5 linked regions of the Homo sapiens genome follow. The protein of the gene in region 1 purifies or fractionates together with the protein of each later gene. This does not show direct contact. Each region holds a gene or a part of one and is shown in the gene's direction. Other genes may lie near its edges. The genes, in order: PPFIA1, IPO9, TBC1D9B, SMYD2 and CNTROB.

The links.
Region 2: the proteins of PPFIA1 (region 1) and IPO9 fractionate together in Homo sapiens (co-fractionation; one large-scale study listed by BioGRID). This does not show direct contact.
Region 3: the proteins of PPFIA1 (region 1) and TBC1D9B fractionate together in Homo sapiens (co-fractionation; one large-scale study listed by BioGRID). This does not show direct contact.
Region 4: the proteins of PPFIA1 (region 1) and SMYD2 fractionate together in Homo sapiens (co-fractionation; one large-scale study listed by BioGRID). This does not show direct contact.
Region 5: the proteins of PPFIA1 (region 1) and CNTROB purify together in Homo sapiens (co-immunoprecipitation; one large-scale study listed by IntAct). This does not show direct contact.

What each region holds. Positions count from the first base shown.
Region 1 is NC_000011.10:70,371,150-70,375,189, forward strand, and holds part of PPFIA1 (liprin-alpha-1), read left to right. Parts: intron 1-1,043; exon of another isoform or gene 1,044-1,062; coding exon of another isoform or gene 1,063-1,065; coding exon 1,066-1,241; exon of another isoform or gene 1,242-1,327; coding exon 1,328-1,425; intron 1,426-3,768; coding exon 3,769-3,944; intron 3,945-4,040. UniProt on the Homo sapiens protein: May regulate the disassembly of focal adhesions. May localize receptor-like tyrosine phosphatases type 2A at specific sites on the plasma membrane, possibly regulating their interaction with the extracellular environment and their association with substrates.
Region 2 is NC_000001.11:201,856,488-201,860,527, forward strand, and holds part of IPO9 (importin-9), read left to right. Parts: intron 1-608; coding exon 609-707; intron 708-1,959; coding exon 1,960-2,066; intron 2,067-2,367; coding exon 2,368-2,507; intron 2,508-4,040. UniProt on the Homo sapiens protein: Nuclear transport receptor that mediates nuclear import of proteins, such as histones, proteasome and actin. Serves as receptor for nuclear localization signals (NLS) in cargo substrates.
Region 3 is NC_000005.10:179,862,585-179,866,624, reverse strand, and holds part of TBC1D9B (TBC1 domain family member 9B), read left to right. Parts: intron 1-736; coding exon 737-787; intron 788-1,264; coding exon 1,265-1,371; intron 1,372-2,496; coding exon 2,497-3,177; 3' UTR 3,178-4,040. UniProt on the Homo sapiens protein: May act as a GTPase-activating protein for Rab family protein(s).
Region 4 is NC_000001.11:214,311,726-214,315,765, forward strand, and holds part of SMYD2 (N-lysine methyltransferase SMYD2), read left to right. Parts: intron 1-3,036; coding exon 3,037-3,147; intron 3,148-4,040. UniProt on the Homo sapiens protein: Protein-lysine N-methyltransferase that methylates both histones and non-histone proteins, including p53/TP53 and RB1. Specifically trimethylates histone H3 'Lys-4' (H3K4me3) in vivo. The activity requires interaction with HSP90alpha.
Region 5 is NC_000017.11:7,945,706-7,949,745, forward strand, and holds part of CNTROB (centrobin), read left to right. Parts: intron 1-22; coding exon 23-281; intron 282-1,661; coding exon of another isoform or gene 1,662-1,795; exon of another isoform or gene 1,796-1,855; intron 1,856-1,865; coding exon 1,866-2,017; intron 2,018-2,210; coding exon 2,211-2,274; intron 2,275-2,451; coding exon 2,452-2,622; intron 2,623-2,781; coding exon 2,782-2,914; coding exon of another isoform or gene 2,915-2,980; intron 2,981-3,376; coding exon of another isoform or gene 3,377-3,379; coding exon 3,380-3,452; intron 3,453-3,679; coding exon 3,680-3,805; 3' UTR 3,806-4,040. UniProt on the Homo sapiens protein: Required for centriole duplication. Inhibition of centriole duplication leading to defects in cytokinesis.

The sequences.
Region 1 (4,040 bases):
AATTATTTAGAAGTATGCTAATTTTTAAATATTTAGTAGGGGGTTCTAGATAGCTTTTTATTATTGATTTCTAATTTCTGTTGAAGTCAAGAGAATGTACCTTGATTTCAGTCTCTTTAAGTATGTTGAGATTTGTCTGTCTTTGAGAATATACTATACAGACATTAAAAGCATATATATTCTGTTGTTGGGTGGCATGTTCTATATTCTGTTGTTGGGTAGAGTGTTCTATATTCTGTTGTTTGGTGGATTGTTCTATATTCTGTTGTTGAGTGGCGTGTTCTATGTTCTCTTGTTGGGTGGCGTGTTCTGTATTCTCTTGTTGGGTGGCGTGTTCTATCTTCTGTTGTTGGGTGGCGTGTTCTACATTCCATTGTTGGGTGGAGTGTTCTATATTCTGTTGTTGGGTGGTGTGTTCTATGAAACGTCAGGTCAAGTTTGTTAAGGGTTGTTAGTTTAGGTTTTCTATATTCTTAATTTTTTTCTTTTTTTGCTTCTTTCATCAGTTGCTATGAGAAAGAAGTGTTGAATTTTTTCAACTATAATTGTGAATTTGCCTGTTTCCCCATTTAGTCCTGTTGGTTGTTGCTTTATCTCTTCTCTAAAACTATATTTTAACTGACTTTTACTGATTTTGAAATGGATTTTTTCTTTAGGAAAACAAAGTGTTAAAATGTAAACCAACCAGAGATAATTTTAGTGAGCAGTGTTGAATTGAGCCTTCAAACTTGTTCATGAGTCGTGATCAATCTTTGTCACATTATTATACTAAAAACTATCTCAGAGAGGAAATTTATAGCCAGTTACAGTTTTTTTGTAGTTTGATTTAAAAGTTAAATTTATCACAACGAATCATATATTTTTCATGTTACTATTCCTGTTGTATAAAAATTTTACTAACAAATTTAAAAGGTGAGAAGAGATCAAATTATTTTGCAATTATAAAATTATCATTAGTTTAGCCTTTGAGAATATAGGTAATAGATTAAAAATTCATTTTAAAAATGATATAAACTACTTTTGAGACTTCCTCTGTAACTGACCTTTTCCATTTATGAAAAGCAGACACTCGCCTATGGGGACATGAACCACGAGTGGATCGGCAACGAGTGGCTCCCCAGCCTGGGCCTCCCCCAGTACCGCAGCTACTTCATGGAGTGCCTTGTAGACGCCAGGATGCTGGACCACTTGACCAAGAAAGACCTTCGAGGGCAGCTGAAAATGGTCGACAGTTTTCACAGGTAACTTAATGGAGATAGTTCTTAATAATTGGCTAAGATTTTTCACTGTTACCATCTCTAAATCATCTCTCTTTTCTTCCAAATAGAAACAGTTTCCAGTGTGGAATTATGTGCCTGAGAAGGTTAAATTATGACCGGAAAGAACTGGAAAGAAAAAGAGAAGAAAGTCAGAGTGAAATAAAAGGTTAGTACATGACATTTAATTGATTCGGTTTACTCCTACTTGCTGGTGTGTTTGGAGCCTCAGTGACTTCCTATTTTTCAAAAAATCAAGAAAGGCTAAATTTAAGTGGAGAAAACTAACTAGTCTAGTGTCATTGCAGAGGAGGGCTGGATGAAGTTGAGTGCTTTTGAGATTCTCTTCCACAGCTAGAGAACTGTTCCCTGTGTTCTCACACATCAGTCTGGAGGTTAAATGTCTCCGGCTAGTCGTTTCCTGTGAGTTGAGAGTTTTCCTTTGGTCATGCCCTGTGTACTCCTTCACTCCGAAATGCTGTTCCACACTGTTAGATAACAACAGAGCAAAGCTCACTTGATGATTCAAGTGTGAGAAATATGACTGGGGGCTTATCCAAGGGGTTCAGGAGAACAGGAGAGCACCGTGCAGTTCTGCTCCCGGAGGGGAAGGAGAGGCAGCGTCTGCATTTCAGCTGGTCCTTGAAGAAGGAGGAGGAGCTGCTTAGGGTAAGGAAAAGGCATTTCAGTTGGAAAACACAGGCCAGGGAGGCGTTAGAGGATGTGAGACATTCATCCAGAAGACGTGGAGTTGGTTCTCTTCTCCGTTGGGGAGTCCCTCACTCGTACTCAAATTTATTTGTTTGTTTGTTTATTTATTTATTTAATTTATTTTGAGACAGGGTCTTGCTCTGTAGCCCAGGCTAGGCTGGAGTGCAGTGGTGTGATCACAGCTCACTACAGCCTTGAACTCCTGGGCTCAAGTGCTCTTCCTGCCTTAGCCTCCCTAGTAGCTCCTGGGAGTACAGGTGTGCTCCACCATGCCTGGAATTTTTTTTTTTTTTGTAGAGACAGGGTCTCGCTATGTTGCCTAGGCTGATCTCGAACTTTTGGGCTCAGGGGATCCTCCCACCTTGGCCTTCCAAAGTGTTGGGATTACAGGTGTGAGCCACCACACCCAGTCAGAATTTGCTTTTAAAATTAGACAGTAAACATTAAGCTCAGAGTAATGACTCCCAGAATTCCTGGAATGCAAGGAAGTCACCAATAACAATAATGATAAGAAGAGGCCAGTCTTACTAACAGTGAGTAGGTGCCAGGTGGTGTTCTAAGTACTCAGGGGTTGCTTTCTTTCATCTTTACCTTAGCCCTGTCAGTCTAAGTGCTGTTTTCATCCCCACTTTATACTAAGAAAGAAACTAAGGATAAAAATATGGTTGGGAGATGGCCCAGTTGAAGGGAAGTCTACTTGTGATTGAGTTAATGTGAATCAGGAGAAAAGTCGTAAGTCGACATTTATACAGTGTGTGTATATGTATGGACTTTTATCCAGAAAAGGGCATTGGCAATGAAATATGTCCATCTGTTTTGTTTTCTGTATCTATTTTACATCTTTTTCCAATAGACAAAGATCTTTGGAAGTGTCTTTGGAAGTGATTGGTGATCATCTGCATATATTTTTAGAGTGGCTATTTTTAGATCTAATAGAGCAAATTGAATAATTTGTTAATTTGCATAAGATATTGTGGCTGGGCATGGTAGCTCATGCCTGTAATCTCAGCACTTTGGGAGGCCAAGGCAGGAGTATTGTCTGAGCCCATGAGTTCAAGACCAGCCTGGGGAACATAGTGAGACCCTGTCAGTACAAAAAAATTAGCTGAGCTTCGTGACACACGCCTGTAGTTCCAGCTCCTCAGGAGGCTGAGGTGGGAAAAATCACTTGAGCCCAGGAGGTTGAGGCTGCAGTGAGCTATGATGGTACCAGGCTGTATCCAGCCTGGGTGACAGAGCAGGACATTGTCAAGAAAAAGAGAGGAAAAAAAAAGATTTTCTGCAAAGTCTCTAATGTGCTGGATGATATTGTTAAGTTTCTCTCATTTTAAAATGAGACAAAGACTTCGAGATTAGAAATGAGAGGTTTCTGTTGAATTGAGCAAAGTGTTCATATTATTATGGAGCCAGCTCCATCCGTGATGAAGTATTTCAGAAGACTCTCCAGTCTGTGTGTGAAGCATGTTTATACATGTTAGGTATTCAAGTTCTTGCAGTCCTCTGGCTTCTGATCCCTGGATCCTCATCATCTTCTTTTCTCTAGAAATAATAACTTCATTCCTCTCGTGCTCACTGGAAGGATGAGTTCTAATGGGAGAGTCTCCCTGAGAGTGGAGCAGGGCCAGGACACCATTGTCTCAGTGCAGCAAATGGTTGTCTATTTAGCAGTGTCTCCCAGCACTTTTCTCAGGAGCCGAAGGATTAGGAACCATGGTAGGAATCTTTCTCCTGCATTACAGGGTACATGTGATAAAGATGGCTTTCTGAAGCCACTTTTATAATTGTCTTTATTCTTTTGCAGACGTGCTTGTTTGGAGCAATGATCGAGTGATTCGCTGGATCCTGTCAATTGGCCTTAAAGAATATGCAAACAATCTTATAGAGAGTGGTGTTCACGGAGCACTTCTGGCCTTAGATGAAACCTTCGACTTCAGTGCACTGGCACTGCTGTTACAGATCCCGACGCAGAACACACAGGTGACGCCAAACCTGTCTGTGTCTGCACTCATTGTTCAGTTGGCACCCTGATTATAGACAGCTAGTTATTCGAATAGAAAGAAACTTTAAAAAAAA
Region 2 (4,040 bases), on another chromosome or scaffold:
ATCTATTCAGAAAATCGATCTATCAAAGGGTAACAGCAGGTTGACATTGGCAGAGAGCTAGTAATCAGCCAGATTCTAAAAGAGAGCAATAGCCATTGCTACCTACCTTGCTACTTAATAGTATTTATTTCTCTACATCAAAAAGAAAAGATTTTTTTAAGCTAGAGTTTTTGTTTCAGTTTTTGTTGTTGTTGTTGTTTTGTTTTGTTTGCTTTTTGGGACAGGGTCTTGCTGTTTTGCTCAGGCTGGAGTGCAGTGGTGTAGACAAAGCTCACGGCAGCCTTGACCTCCCAGGCTCAAGCCATCCTCCTGCCTCAGCCTCCCGAGTAGCTGAGACCACAGGCATATGCCACCATGCCCAGTTGACTTTTTTATTTTTTGTAGAGGTGGGGTCTCACTATGTTGCCCAGGCTGGTCTCAAACTCCTGGGCTCAAGCAGTCCTCCCACCTTGGCCTCCCAAAGTGTCAGGATTACAGTTGTGAGCCATTGCATCCAGCAAAAGGCTAGAGTTTTTTCAGGATAATAGGTTGAAATCTTCCTGTATCTGTTGATGAAAAGCTATGAATCAGATTGGCAGCATCACAAAGACATAACTTGATCTTTTCAGATTAAAGTATGGACAGCCAACCCCCAACAATTTGTAGAAGATGAAGATGATGATACATTCTCCTATACTGTTAGAATAGCAGCTCAAGACTTGTTGCTGGTAAGTTTACCTTGATACTTCAGCCACATAATTTCTATCAGTCACTTGAGCATTTCTTCTTTTTTGTAGACAACTAATCCAAGGTGAGCAGTGTTGTTGGGTGGCTTTATCTCAGACTTTATTGGGGATGCAAGAGAGTTTCTGAAATGAAATTCGAGACTCAGAAATTCTAAAATCATTGCTACTGGTTCTAACTTAAAACTAAATATTAGATAAAAGAATTGTGCAGACCATAGGGCCGGGGTGCGGGGGAGAATTGTATAGAGGATAAAGTGTTCCATGGAGTAAGGGTAGTTGAATCAAGAACATTTCAGTTTATGGCTGGGCGTGGTGACTCACACCTGTAATCCCAGCACTTGGGGAGGCCGAGGCGGGCAGATCACCTGAGGTCCAGAGTTCAAGACTAGCCTGACCAACATGGAGAAACCCCATCTCTACTAAACATACAAAATTAGCCGGGCGTGATGGCGCATGCCTGTAATCCCAGCTACTCGGGAGGCTGACGCAGGAGAATTGCTTGAACCCGGGAGGCGGAGGTTGTGGTGAGCCAAGATTACACCATTGCGCTCCAGCCTGGGCGACAAGAGTGAAACTTGGTCTCAAAAAAAAAAAAAAAAGCCATTTCAGTTTAATTCACTCTTCAACAAGAATCTATAGCACAGACAAAAGGTTGGCAAACCTAGCAAAACAAAACAGATTGCTGAAAGATTAACATCCAAATACCTGCTCATGTTTTCTTTGCCTCTTCTGACTAGAGCATAGAGTTGTCTCTAGGCTGAAATACTAAGAAGAAACTGCCACTTGCTTCTTGTTGGGTAGGAGATTTGTTCTCTGTTGATGAATCACTTCTCATTATCATTTAGTATTTCTAAGGAGCTGTGAAAGATTATATTCAGTTCCAATTAGTAGATTAGACTTATTTTTCTATCATCAGTCTCCAAGAGAGCAAATATTTGGTCCATTGTCATCCAAAGCTAGATCTATTATTGCTCACTTATGCTCTGCTGAATATAGCCAAAGGAGCCAACTGGTTAGCCTTACAATGCCTAGGCACTACCGAAATACAGATACTACTTTAATTTCATTAGAGACCCTGACCTACTGGTATAACATTTTTAATACAATTAGGGGTTTGCACATGTATGTGAAAGAGCTTGAACCAATCACTTCTAACAGTCATGACTGAAGCGGTTTACAATTAAAATGCATTTAATGGGCACAAACAGATTTATTAGCTCTTCTCTCTCTATAGGCTGTGGCCACAGATTTCCAGAATGAAAGTGCAGCAGCCCTGGCTGCTGCAGCCACTCGACATTTACAAGAAGCTGAGCAAACCAAAAACAGTGGCACTGAGCACTGGTAAGAGTGAGCCGCTAATTGGTTAAGATGCTTTTGTTTACCCCTTCTTAAAAAGTCTTGAAAGGATGGATTTATTTTTATCTTAATTTGAAAATCTGGTTTTAATTTAATAACAGATTTTAATCTCTTATTATTAAAATTTCACTCTTTTCAGCTATAGGTTAGAATGGAAGGGCTTAAGGTAAATGACTCTTTTGGAAGAGATTGTGCTGGAGTGCCCTTTTCTGAATCTTGTTTCCTCAAATATTTATCTCTTTTGGCAGTTTAGTATGTTTTACTAGGCTGTAGTATCCTTTCACAGGTGGAAGATCCATGAGGCATGCATGCTTGCCCTAGGCTCAGTGAAGGCCATCATCACTGACAGTGTGAAAAATGGCAGGATTCATTTTGACATGCATGGGTTCCTGACCAATGTCATCCTTGCAGACCTCAACCTCTCAGGTATGTTTCAGCACGTGCCAGGATTCTAGAAACTCTTTAAACCTGTTGTGGGGTTGGGGGAGGGATCAGCATTAGGAGATATACCTGATGTAAGTGACAAGTTAATGGGTGCAGCACACCAACATGGCACATGTATACATATGTAACCTGCACATTGTGTACATGTACCCTAGAACTCAAAGTATAATATATATATATATATATATATATATAAAGGAAACTCTTTAAACCTGTCATTAACTTGGTTATATTGTTCACTTAGACTGGTAGGCCAGATATTCTTGTGTCCTTTGAGTGAAAATTGTTTGCACCCTACAGCTTGAACTCATCCGAACCTCTAAAACAGCCCAGAGGCCGATTCAAGCTTCACCTAATGACAATCTAATATTGCCTAGTTCATAATTCTTCCGTGATGTTTATGTTTCTTCCCAAATTGGCGTTCCCATTCATGGTTGTTTTTGGCATTTGAATGGAATCCAAATCTGGTTGCTGTACCTTGAGAATTATCGAGTACTGCTCCCATTGTTAAGTCCAGAATGCCCTCAGGCATTCTGTATCAGGCACATTCTTCCTGTTTGTTTCCTGTCATTTTTCTCAAACTTTATTTTTGGCCAATATCCAAATAATTAAAATGTTCCATTCTCATACCCATGTTAGCCATCTGTCTTAAAAAGAAAAAAGTAGGCCAGGCGCGATGGCTCATGCCTCTAATCCCAGCACTTTGGGAGGCTAAGGCAGGTGACTCACCTGAGGTCAGGAGTTCAAGACCAGCCTGGCCAACTTGGCGAAACCCCATCTCTACTAAAAATATAAAAATTAGCTGGGTGTGGTAGCAGGAGCCTGTAGTCCCAGCTACTCAAGAGGCTGAGGCAGGAGAATCACTTGAACCAGGAGGCAGAGGTTGCAGAGAACTGAGATCACACCACTGTATTCCACCTTGGGTGACAGAGCGAGACTTGGTTTAAAAAAAAAAAAAAGGTAGCCCTTTACTATTAGACCGATTTCTTCCGCAATACAGAGCAGTAGCTGAGAATCATTGTTGTCTATGTGGCATTTTCTGCTACTTGCTTCTGCCATGCCATGCCTTTTCTCATCCTTGGAGCCAGATCACCATCCGAAAACACTGCCTTTGCTTTCTCTCTCAGTACTTAAATCATGGAACCTTTGGTATTGTTTGCTCCATTTTCGGTCCATTTACTTCCTCTCCATAGGATAGTTCTGGGAGTAGCTTATGTCATTTGAAAATGTTCTGCTCTGTGATTTTAAATAGGTAATCTATTATCGGGTGTCTCAGTCCATCACTTCCATTCTCTGAATCACAAATTAAAATGGTTGTACATCCAGAGCTCAGATGCGTTGGGAATATCCTGTTTCACTCTGTACTTATCATATGCTGCATTGTTGAATATGTTTTCTTACTCCTACTAGTAAGGTCTCTGAGAGTAGAAATCATGTCTAATCTTTGTATCCTACAAGTGCCTTGAGTAGGCATCCCATAGTTACACATTGAATGATTTCTGAAGCCCATCAACA
Region 3 (4,040 bases), on another chromosome or scaffold:
GACCGCATGTGGCCCCCAGGAAGCAGGGCCTCCATTCCAGGGTGAGTTGCCTGAGCCCAGAGAGGTGTGCCCTTCACTGCCACCAGACAGCCAGCGAGAGCAGCTCAGAACTGGGGTGCTGCCGACCTGCCTGAGGTGCCCCCACCAGCCACACTGCCTTTGGGGAACAGCTCCAGGAGAGCTGGTCGGCTGCTTCTCTCCCCAGGTGCATGTTCCCACGCAGGGAGTATAGTGCGCGCCAGTTCCGGCAAATGTCCTCCCCGAAACGCTGCACCAAGCACAGGAGCTGTGCACAGACCACCCCTCAGTAACAGGCACAGCAGGCGCGGGTGGAAGGGGTCATTAGGGTTCCCCTGAGTTCTAGCAGGAACATTCCCCAGAGTTCTAGCAGGAACTATAGAATTCGTTAGTCCTCAGACTGGTCTATAGCCCTCATCATTGTTCACGTCAAAACCAGCATGTTGAGACTTGTATTCATTTGAAAAAAGGAATTGAGGGTTTGGCGGCCTTTATTTTAACCTGACCAAGTGAGGGAATGCTCAGGCCCTTTTGCTCTGGTGCCATAGGGCGGGGCTGGGCGGGCCAGGCAGGAGGTGTGGCATGGGAGACCTGCTCCCCAGGGCCTGGCCTGGGGCTGGCTGTACAGAAACACAGACTACATCTCAAGGACCCCAGGAGCTTGCAGTCCCAACAGCAGAATGTTATTCATGTTCTTTTTATTTTTGCGTTTGTCCAGAAGCACTACCACAGGAAGAGCAAGAAGGAAGTGGAAGTGAGGAGAGAGGAGGTACAGGCCATTCTCTGCCGCTGTTCTTAGAGACCCCAGCGTTGAGGCACCCTTGCTTGCTGGTCTTTTCCCCAGTCACTGCCAGGGAGCCCCCTACCCCGGGAGATGGCGGATGCGTCCCCCGATCAGGGAGCAGGCCTCGGGATGCACAGGAGGCTCCACGCTCTCCACCAGCCCCACGGGCACCCAGCCAGCCCTCTCTTGCCAGCTTCTCTCCAGCTGCCCTGTGACTCCCCATCTGAGAGAAGACATTGTGGATCATTGTCATCAGCTTAGGTCCAACCACTGCAGCAATTTAGGGAAAACCTGTGGCTGTTCTGGGTTTTTTTCCCATGACCACCTTCCCAAACGCCAGGGTGTTTTATGATAGGGCCCTGGTAACTCCATGCCAGAAAACACCCAACTCTTCCTCTCCCTGCTGTCAGCCCGCAGCCGTCTCACATGACAAAGATTAATCTCTTTCCTCCTAACCTGCAGAGGAGAAGGGGACCAGCTCTCCGGACTATCGGCACTACCTTCGAATGTGGGCCAAGGAGAAAGAGGCTCAGAAGGAGACGATTAAGGATCTTCCCAAGATGAACCAGGTAGGCTCCACTGGAGCCCACAGTAGACATTTCTGGAGAGTTCTGACCAAGACTGGGCCCTAACATCACCGCACCTGCACTGCAGCATCTCCTGGTGGGTGGGAAGGCTCCTCCCTGCCTCTAGAGCCCGTTAGTCCTGGTTGCCAGTCAGCGATGATTCCAGAAAGACAAGAGGCCAGTTGCTCCAGGGCCTTGTATAGGGGCATGTTTCCAGATTGAGTGAGTGTCTGTGAACCAGGAGCCAGAGGCTTGTAGGCTACCTTTGACAAGATATGCGTTCCACACCCTGCACCCTCCCAGCCCTGCCCAGGGCTCTGCACACGCAGGCTCACATGCATCCTCCACACCCGCTCTTCATTCACTGGTCTCGCAGATCAGAAGCATGGTGTCTTGCCAAGGGTCTCAAAGCCAGAAAATGGGAGACCCCAGCTCCAAACTGCAAGCGTTGAGCCAAAGGCAAGTCTGGAGCACCAGCCTGACCATGGCCCTCGGGCCAGACCCACGGTCTAGCTGTGCCCAGTAGGGGACCCTGCAATCTGACCACTCCCCCAGCAGGCCTGGAGGGTGGGCACCACGTGCGATGAGGATTCTTCCCATTCTTGGGCCAGGAGGCCTAGACGTGTGGCTTCAGGACCTAGCACCCACCCTCCCCAGCACCCCCCTCCCCAGGATCCCCCTCCCCAGCTGACCCAGGCTGTATTTTCCTCACCATCACCTTCTAAAGAGCTTCATTCAAGGGCTGAGTTGAGGCTGCTTCTGATTAAAACCAAAGGTGATTCTAAAACACAACGAAGTCCTTGTACTGACTGGATTTAGAGTCGTGGTAGAAATCCATCTCCCTGTGCCAACAGAACGGACCTAGAAACAGGGAGGCCCCAGGTCAGACCAGCATGCTCTGAGTGCCAAGAGAAAGGCAGCTGGAGGGGAAAGCCTTTTGAAGAGCTGTGTGGCCTCTCTGAGCCTGTGTCCTGATCTGTGAGATGGGACTGATGAGGCTCATGGAGATGATTAGCAAGACGGCAGCCAACATCCTTAGGCTGGTGCTTGTCATCAGTTTGGCTAATATGGACCCCGTCTGACTGGTCTTTTACCATCTCCCTGTTCTTCTGTTTTTCTCCCTAAAAGGAGCAGTTCATTGAGCTGTGCAAGACGCTTTACAACATGTTCAGTGAAGACCCCATGGAGCAGGACCTGTACCACGCCATCGCCACCGTGGCCAGCCTCCTGCTCCGCATCGGAGAGGTGGGGAAGAAGTTCTCAGCCCGCACAGGCAGGAAGCCCAGGGACTGTGCCACTGAGGAGGACGAGCCACCAGCACCCGAACTGCATCAGGACGCAGCCAGGGAGCTTCAGCCCCCAGCTGCAGGAGACCCCCAAGCCAAAGCAGGCGGAGACACACACCTCGGAAAAGCCCCACAGGAGAGCCAGGTGGTGGTGGAGGGGGGCAGCGGCGAGGGACAGGGCTCACCCTCCCAGCTGCTGTCTGACGATGAAACCAAAGACGACATGTCCATGTCCTCCTACTCGGTGGTCAGCACGGGCTCCCTGCAATGTGAAGACCTTGCAGACGACACGGTGCTGGTGGGCGGGGAGGCCTGCAGCCCCACAGCGCGCATCGGCGGCACCGTCGACACCGACTGGTGCATCTCCTTTGAGCAGATCCTGGCCTCCATCCTGACGGAGTCCGTGCTGGTGAACTTCTTTGAGAAGAGAGTGGACATTGGACTCAAGATCAAGGACCAAAAGAAAGTGGAGAGACAGTTCAGCACCGCCAGTGACCATGAGCAGCCTGGAGTTTCCGGCTGATGCCTGCAGCTGTGAGGCCTGGCCCAAGGTGTCATCAGTGGGGCTGGCCTCATCTCCTCCTGCCTTTCCTCCCTTATCAGTTTCTCTTTAAAGGTGTGCCCCTCCTGCTCTCCCAGGAGCAGTGAGTTGTGAGTGGAAAGAAGGCTGGTGCAGACCCAGCTGCCTTAGACAGATTCCCTGGGCCTGCATCTCCTGGCGCCGGCTGCTTCTGGGCCCAGGAAGAGGCTGTGGCTCCCACCTTCCTTACACCTGGTGGGAGCCCGCCTCGCACCAGCTGCACCTGCCTAGCATTACAGGCTCTCAGATCTGCCCTTGCTTGCCTCATACCTCTGTGCTCCACACTGCGGCCAGGCCAGCTGAGTCCCTCCATCCGTGGATGCTTTCCTGCAGCTATGTGGTATGGGGGTCATTCCTGCCTCTTGGCACCAGGTTGGGGGGCATGTGCTTGTTGGGCACCAAAGTGATGGAACCCTCAGGTGCTCTCCGGGAGCCTGAACCTCCTGACTGAGGAACATGGGCAGAACATGTTTATTGCACAGAGTGGGCGCTGCGCACAGGCGTGGCTGTACACGTGCTCTCAGCTCATCATCCTTTCCAGTAACTTTAAAAAAACATCCCTCAGGTCCTGATATATTTCCTTGGATTCATTTCACTTGGCTAGAAATTACACTGTGCTCAATGCCTTAATAAATCCCTGAAAGAAATAAAAACCACTGTGTGCAATGCCTTGCTGTGGCCCCCAACCACTGCTTAGGCCTCCCAACTTCTCCCCAGGCCAAGTATGGGGCCCTGGCTGTGTTCTGGAAGTTCAAGACACTTAGTCCTCCACAGTGGGTGGAAGAGTGCAAGGTCTGCCAGGTCAG
Region 4 (4,040 bases), on another chromosome or scaffold:
TAATAATTATATTAATAAATGTTCATATTTAACTTCCCAGGAATTCATTGTAGTTGCTAAACACCAAGGCACCACCTGCAGTTCAGAAAACAACAGCTTGCAGGCCCGTTAGGGACAGAGATTATGTCTTGGAGTTTTCTTGGAGTTGCTGGAGTCAGAGTGGGCATTTGTCTATAGTTGTTAATGATCCATCTGTCCCCAGCTGGTAGGTCCCCATATCCTCTCAGGTATCCCGAGGGTCATCTCTGTCTTTTCCTCTTTGCTCTGCAGCTGAGGAGGGAGCTGATTAGTCTGCAGGGAGACAGACCCACCTGTTCCCACCTCTTCGCCTCATCACCATGCTCTCATTTTAGGCTTTGGCTAAAAACAGATTCTCTTCTCCCTTGTGCATATCTTGTCATTTCTTTTCCTCCCTGCTCTTAGTTATATTTGGCGCGGCATTATTTAACTCTGCAGAACATCTTGGCCCAGAACTTGAGCTAAGGGGCTGCACCATAGACTGCATTAAATCATTAAGTGACATTATGTGCTTCCTTCTTGGGGGATCAGTGTGGAGGGAAGCGGGTAGGGAGATATCTTCATTCCTTCAACAACTATATTGAGTGCCTACTAAATGCCAGGCACTGTTGTCAGTTCTGGGGTTACAGCTATGAACAAAACAAAATTTCTTTATTTTCCTGGGGAGAGACAGATACTAAACCAAACAACTAATAAATATATAATATGCTCAGGTGGTGAGAAGTACTAAGAAGCAGCAGAAAGCAAGGAAAGGAAGAATGATGGGGAAGTGCTCTTTCTGACAGGGTGATTGTGGCAGGTATCTTGAGAAGGTGACATTCCAGCAGCGGCTGGAGAGGAGGGAGGGAGTCACATGGATATCCAGGGGAGGAGAGTGCTAGCCACAAAACAGAGCAAGTGCGAAGGGCCTTGAGGCAGGTACATGGCTCCAGGCGCAGCCAGGACACTTCTGTGGCTAAGTGCAGTGAGGCAGGTGAGAGTACGGTGGGGGATGATGGGCTGGGGTGGTGCAGGGACGCTCCCATCACGTGTGGCCTCCTAGGTCACCTTTAGCGCTTGGCCTTTTGCCTGGATGAGAAAAGCCATTAGGTTTTGAGCTGAGGACTGGCCTGATCCGAGTTTTGTCAACAGAATCCCTCAGGCTGCTCTCTGGAACCTAGTCCATGGGAGCAAGGACAGAAGCGGGCATCCAGTTAGAAGGCAGTGGCAGGACATTAGTCATGAGAGATGTTGGGGCTGCAGCCGGGTAGAAAGGTTGTGGAGCTAAGAAGTGATCAGATTCCAGGCAGAGACAGAGGATTTGCCAGAACTGACTGAATGTGGAGTGTGAGTGAGAGAGCAGCGTCAAGGATGACTCTAGCTTTCTGGCCTGAGCATTTATTTTTATTTTTGAGACAGAATCTCACACTGTTGCCCAGGCTGGAGTGTAGCGGTGCACTCTCGGCTCACTGCAACCTCTGCCTCCTGGGTTCAAGCGATTCTCCTGCCTCAGCCTCCTGAGTAGCTGGGACTGCAGGCACATGCCACCACACTTGGCTAATTTTTTTATTTTTAGTAGAGATGGGGTTTTATCACGTTGGCCAGGCCAATCATAAACTCCTGACCTCGGGTGATCCGCCCATGTCAGCCTCCCTGCCCTGAGCATTTATGGCCATTTTCTGAGCTAGGGAAGGCCAAGGACAGAGCAGGACAGTACCCAATTCCATCGTGAAAGAGACAGTGTGTAAGGGCTTCCATCAGTATACAACGTGCTCTGATATTTCCCATCTAAAAAAAAAAAAAAGTCCCCCGCAACTTTTCACTACTCTAAGCTGTGTCTCCTTTCATTTTTTCTTGAATCTGCTCCCTGTCATTTCTTACCCCATCATCCCACCAAAACTTGTTTTTATGAAAATCATCAAGCTTCCATGATTCCAAATCACATTCTCCGTCCTCTCACACTAAGCCTATCTCCAGCACTGGCATCATCATTTACTCCCTAGTCCTCAAAGTACTTGCTTCCCTCAGCCTCCAAAACACCATGGTGTCCTTCTCTCAATGCCTTCCCCATCTCAAGTGATGGCGCCTCCACCCTTCCAGCAGCAAATATCCTTCATCCCTCTACCCGGGGCAGGGAAACTTCAGGGCGTATGATAGAAAGAATACTACTGTTAGGCCAGGCACGGTGGCTCACGCCTGTAATCCCTGCACTTTGGGAGGCCGAAGCAGGTGGATCATGAGGTTAAGAGATCAAGACTATCCTGGCCAACATCTTGAAACCCCGTCTCTACTAAAAATACAAAAATTAGCCGGGCGTAGTGGCACACACCTGTAATCTCAGCTACTCAGGAGGCTGAGGCAGGAGAATCACTTGAACCCGGGAGGCAGAGGTTGCAGTGAGTCGAGATCGCGCCACTGCACTGCAGCCTGGCAACAGAGCGAGACTCTGTCTCAAAAAAAAAAAAGGAAAGAAAGAATACTACTGTTTTATCCAGTGCATCTTTGGGAAGTCCTAACTATTCCTAAATCTTTCCAGTGGTTGCCCTTCATGAAACCCTCATTTGTGCTTTTTAAAAAGTCGCCTGTAAAAGGGACTCATTGCTGTGTAAGTCAACTCTCCATTATTTGCCCTGACGTGAGAACAAAGCCAGAGCGGAACTGTGAGGCAACAAAGCCAAATCAATGGCTGATACTCAAATTGCTCCCTCTGCAATTTGACAGCTTGCACAGATGATGGAAAGATGTATGTGTTGTTTAGAATAATGAGGGGCTGCAGAAAGCCATGAGGTGCTTGAGGAAAAAACACAAAGTAGATCTTCTCATCCCAACAAGCTTGACCCAGGCCTGAGTGAAGGTCATACAATCCTGCCTATCTTAAAGGATGTTTTTATCTCTAGCTTTTGTGAGCATCCTCGTGTTTTCCAAAAGGAAACATATTTTACTTGACCTTAACTAGGGGGACTCACTGCATCCTCTCCTCTCACACTTTATTCCAGTGTATGTGCTATTTTTTAATAATGTTTTTTTCAATCTTCCCAGAAAGAAGATTGGCCCATGCACAAGCTGGAATGTTCTCCCATGGTTGTTTTTGGGGAAAACTGGAATCCCTCGGAGACTGTAAGACTAACAGCAAGGATTCTGGCCAAACAGGTGAGGAAATGGGACAATGTTCAAGTGCATTTTATTTTGTTTTTCTTTTAAAGGTCAGAAAGATGAGTAACTGACCTTTGGTAACCATCTCTCGTTAAACATCCTTAGACTACATTTCCTATCATATCCATATGGACAGGGGTGGGGAAAATACTCCAGGCATAATCTAGTTAGTTGTGTGCCCTGTGCAATTAGGATGTTGCTTACCCTAGACCAGGAGCATAGCCACAGCTCTGAAATTCTGAGCTGTTTTCATGACAGGTTTACATGGAAATACGTGACATGAAAAGCCTGACCTCAAATAATTAGAGCTTCCTAGGGAACCAGATTGGTCTGAGCAGCTTTGAGATTTTCCTCTCTTTCCATTCTGACATAAAGAGTGTACTCTGTTCCCCTTTCCTGTGTAATATTCTGCTCTTTCTTGGCTCCTTTCTTGCCTGTGCATAGGCAGGCAAAGAATTGGATGGAACAGCCTTGACTATGACATGTGCAAAGAAGAGAAAGAGTGGAAAAGTAGAAATAGAGGCAAGGGAGAGGGGAAGAGAGTTAAAAAAAAAAAGTGAAGAAGAAGGAAAGAAAGAGGTGCCCTTGATGGAAACAGATGATAGTCATCAATGGCTTTCTCCAGAAGTGATGCCAACTCTGACTATTCTGTGGTGGGCAGGACTATGCAAACTTACGCTCAAAGAGTGAGGAAGCTGAGAGACAGAAGAAAGAAGCTGACAAATCCAGTTTATTAGAAACATTTACTAGGACTTATGAACTGAAGCCATGTCTATGTCTTGGGCGGCAGCAAGACAAGATGGTGGATCCCTGCACCATTACCCACCAGAGCCAGGGCTTATATACCATAGGGAAGAAATGTGTACAGCAGTTACAAGGAAAGGCAAGGA
Region 5 (4,040 bases), on another chromosome or scaffold:
TTTCTGCCTCTCTCCTGGTCAGGCTCCTCCTGCTGGACCCTCCAGCCCCGGGCCTCAGGAGCCCGAGAAGGAGGAGAGGAGGGTCTGGACTATGCCTCCCATGGCCGTGGCCCTGAAGCCTGTATTGCAGCAGAGCCGGGAAGCAAGGGACGAGCTACCTGGAGCGCCTCCTGTTCTTTGCAGTTCCTCCTCAGATCTTAGCCTCCTGTTGGGCCCCTCTTTTCAGAGCCAGCATTCTTTCCAGCCCCTGGAGCCCAAACCAGACCTCACTTCATCCACAGGTAACTGGGGGCAGAAGTCACTGGGGTTCCCCTTCTGTGCATGAATTGGCTCCCTCTTTCGTACCCTGCTTTCTGTCTGATACTTGAGCATTTAGTTTCCCAGATGCCTTTAGTGATCGCAAGTTGCAAGGAGCAGAAATCTGCTCACATTGGTCCAAATAAAGGGATTGAGATCTCATGGAAATATGACATCGCTGGACTTAATGAGAACTGGAGTTGGGAACGGGGTACTATCAGGAACTGAGGCAGCTAGCTGGCCCTTTTCTGTGGGCCTGCATAGCCTCCTGGGTCCACCTCTCCTGCACATCTGCTCTTTTTTCTTGCTAGACCAGCATTCAAGGTTCTCACCCTTCATAACTTCAGTTTACACATGGGTTTGACCAGCTGTGATACTGACTCTAGCTGAGCCTCTAGACATTTATAGAGACATCGGTGTCTCAGTTTTTTTAGGTCCAGTTTAAAGAGGCCATCTGATTGGATTGGCTGACCTTGGGTGTGGTGTCCACCCCTAGTTTAATGTCACCTGTGATTTGAGTGGATGGGGGCATTCTGTGTGGTACAAACATGACAACCTAGGTCGAATTAAAAATGAGGGATGGGGCCGGGTGCAGTGGCTCACGCCTGTAATGCTAGCGCGTTGGGAGGCTGAGGTGGGAGGATGGCTTGGTGCCAGGAGTTCCAGACCAGTCTGACCCATATAGTGAGACCTCATCTCTACACAAAATAAAAAGTTAGCAGGATGTGGTGGCACACACCCAAATTTCCAGCTACCCAGGGAGGCTGAGACAGAAGGATTGCTTGAGCCAAGGAGTTTGGGGCTACAGTGAGCTAAGAAGTTGCCATTGTACTCTAGCCTGGGCAACACAGCAAGACTCTGTCTCTTAAAAAAAAAAAAAAGAGATTACAGCTCACGCCTGTAATCCCAGTACTTTGGGAGGCCGAGGCGGGCAGATCACAAGGTCAGGATATCGAGACCATCCTGGCTAACACAGTGAAACCCCGTCTCTACTAAAAATACAAAAAAGTTAGCCGGGCGTGGTGGCAGGCATCTGTAGTCCCAGCTACTCGGGAGGCTGAGGCAGGAGAATGGTGTGAACCCGGGAGGCGGAGCTTGCAGTGAGCCGAGATCGCGCCGCTGCACTTCAGCCTGGGCGACAGAGCGAGACTCCATCTCAAAAAAAAAAAAAAAAAGAGAGATTAGTTGTAGCACAATTAAAAATTTTTTAATTATGTGAGAATAATAAAAGAATGAGGCATATTCGGGGGAAGAGGTCAGAACATGTGTGTTACTCATTTCCATTCTTCAGGGAGTTTGTGAGGGTATTTATTTGTTTAGAGTTTGAGTACCACAGCTTTCTTCTGTCTATATTTCTGTCTTAGAATTCAGCTGTGCCATCTCTCAGTCACCTCCAACCCTTCCCTCTCCAGCTACTTTAAACCTCCATCTTCATCTTCTCTTAGCTGTGATGTTCCTCTTCCATTTAATAGGCCCCTTTCTTCTGAGTATTAGGTGAGTTGATTTGTGGAGAAGCCCCTTCCCCCCTGAACACACTTGCACCCACCCATACCTGTTTCACTTTATAGCTGGGGCCTTCTCTGCACTTGGGGCCTTCCATCCCGATCATAGGGCAGAAAGGCCATTCCCTGAGGAAGATCCTGGACCTGACGGGGAGGGCCTCCTAAAGCAAGGGCTGCCGCCTGCTCAGCTGGAGGGCCTCAAGAATTTTTTGCACCAGGTAAGAGAGATTCCACCCAGACTAGCTCACTTTCTTCTTCCCTTTCTCCTTTCCTCTTTCTGCTCTGGGAATCCAGGACTCTGGCCTCATTCCCTGTTTATGACTAACTCTTTGTCCCAGCTTCTTCTCTCAGATCCCTGGGCGTTTTTCTCTATCAGTCCCTAGGGAACTTGACAATCTTATTCACCCACAGTTGCTGGAGACAGTGCCCCAGAACAATGAGAACCCTTCTGTCGACCTGTTGCCCCCTAAGTCTGGTGAGTTCCAACTCTGAAGAAGGTTGGGGCTGGGGCCTAGGAAAGATCGGAGTTGGTTATCTAGGATGAATTTTTAGGAGCTGGCAAAAGTAATAAAGCCTTATAAATGCTGGGTGGTGGGACTTCCTTGGTTCTATGCCCCATTTCCTGATTCTTGGCATTCTTTCCTTTTGCTAGGTCCTCTGACTGTCCCATCTTGGGAGGAAGCCCCTCAAGTGCCACGTATTCCACCGCCTGTCCACAAAACCAAAGTTCCCTTAGCCATGGCATCCAGTCTTTTCCGGGTCCCTGAGCCTCCCTCCTCCCATTCACAAGGCAGTGGTCCCAGCAGTGGTTCCCCAGAGAGAGGTGAGCATGTTCTGGTTTATTAGGGAAAAAAGGAGGGACAGTCCTGAGTGTGGATCCAGTACAGGCACTTACAGTCCTTCTGAATTCCTGGGGAAATGGGCTGAGGGCTGGGGAGACAGGCCCTAGGATGACGCCTGTGATTATTGCGATGTCTGTCAGGTGGAGATGGGCTTACATTCCCAAGGCAGCTGATGGAGGTGTCTCAACTGTTGCGACTCTACCAGGCTCGGGGCTGGGGGGCTCTGCCTGCTGAGGATCTCCTGCTCTACCTGAAGAGGCTGGAACACAGCGGGTACAAGCCTGGGAGGAAGGAGGAAGGATTCTCCGGGTGGAAGCTGGATTATGGGGAGTGGAGTGGGTGTGTTTTACACTGAATTGAATCGTTGTCCTTTTCTGGGGAGGAAAGTGAAGGATGAGAGGTGGATCCACAGATCTTCTCTAACTGCCCCACACTTTTCTTTTATCTCCTCCTTTCTATTGCTTTTTTCTTCTAAACAAAAAAATCTTTTCCCCGGGTCTCTCTACCTTCGTTTTTTTCCTCTTTACCCCTCAGCTCAAAACTCAGAATCCTAGACTTTTGACTAGCTAGTGTAACTCGTTATTTACTTCCACTAATGTCTCCTCCCAGTTGATGCCCAGGTCTATCGAGTTTGATCTTATTCTTAAGAGATAGAATTGGGGAGTAGTTCTTCCATCCAGTATTGGGTAACCGGGGGGACGGAGATCCCCATCCTCATACCTTTGATTTGTGTAGCAGGACTGATGGCCGAGGGGATAATGTCCCCAGAAGGAACACAGACTCCCGCTTGGGTGAGATCCCCCGGAAAGAGGTGAGGGAAAGTCAGGCAGGGACCAGGGGAGAAAAGGGCTCTCACTGACCAGCTCCTTCACCTCTGCACACTCCTGGCTGGCCCCTCCATTCCACCCCTGCATTCTGTAGCATGGCCTTTCCTCCCTGCAGACTCATCTGGCCCTCTCCACGTGCATTTCCTCAGTGGGGTGGGGAATTGAGAGGATCTGACGCTGATTTCTTCCTCTCTCTTCCCTCAACTCTCAGATTCCCTCCCAGGCTGTCCCTCGCCGCCTTGCTACAGCCCCCAAGACTGAAAAACCTCCCGCACGGAAGAAAAGTGGGCACCCTGCCCCGAGTAGCATGAGGAGCCGGGGGGGAGTCTGGAGATGAGCCCCCCTACCCTCTCTCCTCTTTGTTCTCTCATTGTTGTTATTTTAATAAATGCTCATTAGTCTGTATCAGAGTCTCTGGCTCATAGGAATTTGGAAAATAGAGGTTTTGTAGGGAATCACTTCGTAAAGAAACCACATTTGGTTGAGTACTTTTTTTATATGTTACATGTTTATATGTCATTTCCTGTGGGAAAAGACATGAATGCTTTGGAAGACGGTCTATGACAAGATTT